Homo sapiens: one gene and its partner. The protein of the gene in region 2 interacts with the protein of the main gene of each other region in a pairwise test. Each region holds a gene or a part of one and is shown on either strand. Other genes may lie near its edges.

Region 1 (3,820 bases), on a different chromosome or scaffold from region 2:
TCAGAAAATCAAGTCAGTCGTTGGCGGACCTAAAAAATGGCAGACGGTATGAAACGGTGTAAGATCAAAGCTCCCCTATTCAAACTTTTTGTTTCCACCACCAAAATATTTCTCTACGTAAGCAGCCATCCTCACAAAGAATACTATGTAAGACTGTTGAACCCAGAAAAGTAAAACACAAAGCTAGCAGACCTCATTGAGGACCTGTGGCCAGCTGGATCTAGATCCGATTTCCAGAAGGACGGAAGGGAACGCTAATGAAGGCTTGGCCAGCGCAGATGTGTTCCTGTACCCTAAATCCCTGCGGCTATTCCGCGAATGGCACGTCCAGCCAGGCCAAAGGTTTTTACCTTCCAGGACTTAGCCAAGTTCAGTCATTAGATGCATGTCCATTAGGTTCTGTTTCTTTAGTTAAAATAGGCATTTCTAATACTAGGTCACAATCAAATAAACTTAAATGTGCAAGGTAGAATCAAAACGGTGATTTATTTTCTTAAACTCATCCACCCTTTAAACATAAAGGAAAAAAGGGGAGGGGAGAGGGGAAGGGAGGGGAGGGGAGGGGAGAAGGGAGGGGAGAAGGGAGGGGAGAGGGGAGGGGGGAGGGGAGGGAGGGGAGGGGAGACGGCATGGAGGGGAGGGGAGAGGGGAGGGGAGGGGGAGGGGGAGGGGAGGGGAGGGGGAGGAGATGGGGAGGGGAGGGGGAGGAGAAAGGGGAGGAAAGGGGAGGGGAGAGGGGAGAAGGGAGGGGAGGGGGAAGAGGAGAGGGGAGGGAGAAAGAGAGAGGGAGAAAGAGAGGGAGAAAGAAAAGAATAGAAAAAAGAAAAGAAGAAAAGAAAAGCTAGAAAAAGCAGCCATAAATCCCATATGAAGGGGGATAGAGAGCTGGTCATCATTGGATGAAGTTTATAAGCCCACATATGAAACATGTCTTACATACAGTTACACTCCTCATTTCAGGAGTCATAACACACATTTTATTACATTGCACATCAGGTCAAATTGTTGAGTTATGTAGCAGTGCTAGGACATTTTTAATAACCCAAAAACACTTCTACTAAACAGCTGTTGTAATCAAACTTGCCTGTGTTGAAAATAAAACTAAAACTATATAATGAAAATACAAACAAGCCTAGGCAAGTAGCTTCTCTCATACGTTATATTCCACAGTGAAAACCAGCCTATATTTATTCTAAAGTACACAGAGCTTATTTTCAATGTCTTCTCTTTGGTATATTCTTATATAAGAAACTCAACAAATTCTACTGTATATTCTTCACACGTTATGCTCATTTATTTTTTTGAACACTAAGTTCTATTTCCAGGGAGAAACAAAATGGTAACTTTGAGGTTGGTACCATATTATACTTAGAACTTACATATCTGGAATAGATTTTGAGTTGGCAAAACCGTGTTCCCTGTCCTTTCTGACAACTGTTGCCATTTCATTTGCAGTCTCATTTCAGCTGTGAGGCATTTAACTCTCCCAATTTTGAAAAGCCTTCTTGGATAATTTTAGCATTCCCAAAACTTGCTGATAATACCCTAAGCTAAGGGAAAAGGCGTACCATCAGCAGCCCCCCGGCTGCCCTATCAATGGCTTGGAAAATCTATTAAGACGAATATTCTCACAACCCAATTGCCAACCCGGAACGATCAGACTGGTCTCTGTATTCCACGGTGCAGATGGAGTTTGTAAGAACGGGAAGGCCGGCTCTACTTCGGTGAGCGATAACACAGCTTTTCTGGTCAAACAGCTTCTGGAAAACACCACCTGATCGACGGGCGGGTACAGACAGACATTGGGAAACGACTTACCTCAACGTGAAGCGATCTTCAGTGGAATTTCTGGAGATGGAAACAGGAAAAGTCAGCACGTCTCCTTTCCTCACGGTCTTTGGTATATAGTGGATGGCCACGCTGTTGTCCAGACGCAGTTCTCTCAGGGAGGGTTTCCTGTGTGTCTGATAAAGGAAGATGCTCCCGATCCTCTGCAAGGGGGGCCCGGACTCATCGATGTCACTGTGGCCTGTCCGGATCCCATTGCTTCTCCTCGCGTCTTCCCTGACGCAGTCCCCTCTCTCACCCCCTGGGTGCACGGTGTAGTAGAGCTCCACGGGGGTCCCCTCCGGCTGGTCCACGGACTTCCTCCTCCCGGCAACCACCGTGGGGGGGCTGAACCAGCTGGACAGGAGCTCCAGCTCGGCCACGCACAGCCCCAGGTCCCCCTGCAGCCGGCAGCTGCCCCGCACCTCTCGGGTCTCTCGGAAAGCAAAGACCCTCAGGCACGGCAGCTTCTCCCCGGCGCTGCGGTCGTCCCAGTCTCTGCCCATGATGTGGAACAGAACCTGCACTTTGGGCCGGCTCAGGTAGACTTTGTCCCGCAGGATGTGGGCTTTTAGTTTCCAGTTAAGAGAAAATTTGTTGGTGAATCCAAATGGGTTGGAAGGTAGCATTAAATCCTGGGGCACCACTTGCTCGATGGAGAAAGGCCCGTAGCTGGCATTGAGGACAGGCAGCCTCCTGGATTTGTAAATCAGAAATGACTCCACCCGGGACTGCAGGCTGGAGTTCCTCATGATATCCTGGTTGGCCTCCTTCAGGAAGAAGGAGACGTCCGCGTTGTTGATGTGGTAGGTCACGGGGAGGTAGGTGGGCAGCAAGGAAAACCTCTGGATGCTCTCAAGGATCCCTCGACCTTCCGTCACTGTGGGGAGGGAATCGCAGTGCAGGCGTTAGTAATGCTAAGGTCCTGTTACCAGCATTTCAGACATCTGCGTGCCCCCTTCATAACAGAGGACCCTGTCTTCGCGCCAATTATGCAATTCCTTATCCAAACCTCTTAATCCAATCTACTCGCTTCATATTATTTGTTTCAGAAGAAATAAATGCCACCAACCTAAGTAGAAAACCAGTATCATTTAACCTATAAAAAAGTTGAGCATGCAAATAAATACAATTCAAATACAGTTTTAAAATTTCCACTCGTGATAATGGTGTTTTTATGGGGTTATGGTAAAGACTTGCTCTTTTTTTGATCAAAGGAGAGATTAGCAAGTGTTAGAAAGCTGTCACAGACAAGCTACCATCGACAGAGAGGCACCGTCCCATTGACTCAACACAGACTGAGATTGGAAACAGGAATGACTTCCTCAACACATGGATTGATGCCACGTCCACATTCCACCTGATACATATTCCTTTGTGTTCCACTCATATGCACGTTCTGCATATACGCACATGTCCAATGGGAAATGCTAACAGACTTGGGGCAAAAATAGACGCAGATGCACAATCATAAATCACATGGACAGTGGACACCCGCCCCCAGTTGGAGTTAAGGGGAGAGATGCAGAGAAAATACCTTGGAAGGATATATTGGGAGGGGCCCTCTAGAAATAGATGAGATGAGGTGACCACGACACCAATGTGTCAGGGCCGGGCGTACAAAGCAATGCTCCAAGTCATCTATGAAACACTGGACCCTGAACCTAAGAAGCACGGGAAGGGCAGCACCTCGCTTCCATGCCAGCCACATCCTGTGGACACTACGCCGTCACCAACGAACAAAATCCATTGTTCATTTTTCCGCACTGAACGTATCTCTCCCTCAGGGGGAGAAAAATCCAAAATGTTATTTTCACAAGTTGCCTTACATTCTGTAAGAAAAATGCAGGCAGAGCAATTGCATAATCCAAAGAACCAATTTAAGGAGTTTTAGAAATGTAAACTATTGGCTGGGAACACTGACTTTCTAGGCAAAGCTCCACAAGTTATGCTGAAGCCCTTCTCGTCAGTCACCATGTAATTATCTTTGATT
Region 2 (3,629 bases):
AGAATGAAAGGACCCTAAAAAGTTATCACTTGGATCCATGCTCCTTTACTTTATTCTAGAGTGGGATCTTCCCCTAAATACTAAATTAAGGACAGGACTTGGAAAGAGTTCCTGTGATTCTAAGAATTCAATAAATTGGCATAGGGTGGTGGTACTGGTTATAGGGGAATTCTGTCCATAGAAAACAAGGCCCCCATTATTTTTCAGTTAAAGAATTGTAGTCTATTTTGAATGCTACCACTCTGTATGGCTTCATGTTCAAAATGGGGCCCTCTGTTCTGTCCTGCAGTCCTACCACATTCTCCTAGTTTGCTCATTCTCCTACAGGACTCTCATACTTCTCCCCATAAGCCTGACATCTCCCCTCTCATCCTCATCCTCAGCTGACATGACTTCCTATTTCACTGAGAACCAGAATCACTTGAAAAGAACCTCCACAAGCTCTCCCCACCACGTCTCCTTGCCTATTACAGAGAGGCCTGTGGATGCAATCTTCTCTGGATCAAAGGTCCAAGACCCTATAGAAAGCAGAGCCCTTGCTCTGTCACTAGATCCCACTGCTCCACCTACTAAGGGGCCCTGCTCTACCAACTGTCCCCTGCATCACTGGCTTGTTCCCCTTCACTGAGTCATTTGCATCATTAGACAAGCTTCCATTTCCCACATCTTAAAAAAGTAAAGATGTTTTACCTCAAATGCCCCAAAGCTCTTCCTTTTTATCTTTATAATAAAATTACCATGAAAAGCTGCCTCTATTCCCCATCTTCAGTTCCTCTACTTCCACGCTCCGATCAGACTTCCCGCCTCACTGCGCTAAAACTGCTTGCCAAGGCCCCTCCGGCGTTCTCATCGCCAAACCCACTCGTCAGTTCTCAGTCCTCGTGCAGACGTGCCAGCAGCATCTGGTGTGGTTCGGACTTCTTCCTTCCTGTTTCGCTTTCTTTCCCAGCCTGCAGGAAACGGTCTGCTGGTTTCTCTCTTCCGTTACTGCTCACTCCTCTTCAGTCTCCTTTGCTGGTGTCTCCTTATCTCCTTAACCTCTAAGCACAGAGTGCTCAGGACTTAATCTTCAAACCTGTCTCACGTCACTGCCTCATAGCTTTGACTTCAGCACATTTCTCTCTGACTTCCAGGCTTGCTTATCCAATTTGCTTATTAGACATTTCCATTTGGATGTCTAATAGACATCACATACTTCTCATATTCAAAACCAAATTTCTGATATTTCCCCCAAAATGTTGCTCCTATCTTCTATATCTCAATAGATGCCACTTTCATCCTTACAGCTGCTGAGGGACAGAACCTCCTCAGTCGTCTTTTTTTTCCTCACATCTAATCCATCCGCACATCCTGTTGGCTCTACTTTCAAAATGTATTCAAAATCTTAACCACTTTTTACCATCCCCACAGGTGATAACTTGGACCAATCCACCATCATCACTTACTGGATTATACAGCCTCCTAAGTACCCTCCTTCACACACACACACACACACACACACACACACACACTCTTCTCTCTCTCACCCTCTCTCTCTCTCCACACACACACACACACACACACACACTCTCTCTCTCTCTCTCTCTCTCTCTTCTCTTCTCTCTCTCACCCTCTCTCTCTCTCCCTACCTCCCTCCCTCCCTCCTCAACACAGCAGCCAGGAGGCAGGAGGATTACTTCAAATGCCCATCATATCTGCTCCTCTCCAAACCCTCTGATGGCCACTCACCTTGGAACTCTGATTCCTGAAACTTGCCTATGGACTCTGCAGGCCCTGCCTCCTCCCACACACGCCACTGTGCACCTCCACCGCACCATCTCCCTGCCTCATCAGCTACTTCCCTCCCCACTGTGCTCCCTCCACACCGGGCTTGCTTTTCCCAGAACACACCACCCACACCTCCTTCAGGTCTCTGCTTGAGTCACCTGCTCACTGATGTCTTGCCTCCCTGACCATTCTATTTAAAATTTCAACTTTCATCTCAGGATGGCATTCCCTAGGCTGTCTTCCCTGTCTTACTTCTTTCCATATCACTTGTCACCATCTGACATACTATATATCCTATTCATTTATTGATCACCTATCTCCCCTCACCAGAAATTCCCATGAGAGCAGAGATTTTGGATTGTTTTGTTCATTTGCAGTACCCCAGTGCGTAGGGCAGTGCCAGGCATGTAGCAGGCACTCAGTGAATATTTGTTGAATCCATGCATAAATACTCCTGATTTCAAAATACTGAGGACAATGGAGAATTGTAGTTAAACATGCGGTTTTAAAATGTGCCCAATCTTGGACTGTATCCCAGTTTTGCAGTTTACTAGTTTACTCAGATTACTTAATCTTTCCAAGCTTCAGTTTTCTCATTTATAAACTGGATCTAATATAATAATGCCTATGTCATATAAGGTTGTTTTGAGGAGTAAATGAAACATGAACTGTGCTTAGAATAATCCCTGGCTCATATTAATTATGTACTAAGTGACAGTCCAGCATGAGGGATAATAATTTGCTGAAAGAGCCCATTTCTTGCTTATTTGAGCCAGGCAAATCAAATACAGCACTGTTCTTTATTTACGAAAGCTTGTATTTTACATTAAGTACATATACAGTCTATTTTACTTATAGTCTATTATACTAATTTAGGGTACAGCAATTAGCTGGACAGGCTGTAGTACAACAGTGCATCTCTATAGGCAAAACTGAACATCCATGAAAGGGGTATTTAGTAGGTACCTACTCTGTGTCAGACACCGTCCTAGGCGCTGGGGATATGGTTGTGAGCAAAACAAAGTCCCTGCCATGCCTCAAAGAGCTTACTTTCTAGAAAACAGAGAGCTGGAAGGTAGCCAGACAAATAATTCACATAAATAGAGAATATAAAAAAGTATTAAAAATGAAGCCTGATTCAGATGCAAACACCACGTGCCACCATCTTGACATCTGAGATGGCCCTCCATCACCGTGGCTCATCACTGTGATGCTCAAGAATGGACTAGGAAAAGTGCATGGATTTTGTCTGACCATGAAACATTCTGTGTTGTAAGTGCCCAATATGTTATTGCCTTGATATAAAACATTCACTGTGCTGTTAAATGTCATTGTTTTGAGGTAGTACTTTTTTTTTAATGTTAAGTGAAAAAAAATCTAGGTTTCAAGTATTTACAAATATATAATGTGACATAAAACAAAAACTCAGAAGCTGTTATATGAAAGTGCTAATGTTCTCTGGTTGATGAGTCATTACCTTCCTCACTTTTTGTCTTTTACAAATTTTCTTTAATAAGCATAGTATTATTTATGTAAACAGAAAAAAAGTTATAACCTTTCATCTACTAAAATGTCTCTGTTTTCTTTGACCAAAGGAGAGGATATCCTTATACCAAAAGGAAACTGACTCGAAGATGTTACAGCCTGTTTCCTAAAGATTTGGTTCTAAGATTGGTTTTCTTTCCTTTCTTTATTATCATAACAATACATGGTCACTGTAAAAGTTAAAAAAAAATAAGCAAAGAGAAGAAAATAAAAATCACCCACAATCCCACCATTCAATGATAACCACTAAGCATAGTTTTCAGTCTTTTTTTCTATGTAGATAATGAATTTTAGTTTTTTATTCAGCTATTTATACT

What was found.
Region 1: the proteins of RCBTB2 (region 2) and TMEM132D interact in a two-hybrid assay, tested with the Homo sapiens proteins (one large-scale study listed by BioGRID).

The regions. Positions count from the first base shown.
Region 1 is NC_000012.12:129,697,992-129,701,811, forward strand, and holds part of TMEM132D (transmembrane protein 132D precursor), read right to left. Parts: intron 2,708-3,820; coding exon 1,819-2,707; intron 1-1,818. UniProt on the Homo sapiens protein: Regulate neuronals morphology via inhibition of the WAVE regulatory complex (WCR), a complex that controls F-actin cytoskeletal dynamics.
Region 2 is NC_000013.11:48,491,750-48,495,378, forward strand, and holds part of RCBTB2 (RCC1 and BTB domain-containing protein 2), read right to left. Parts: intron 1-3,629.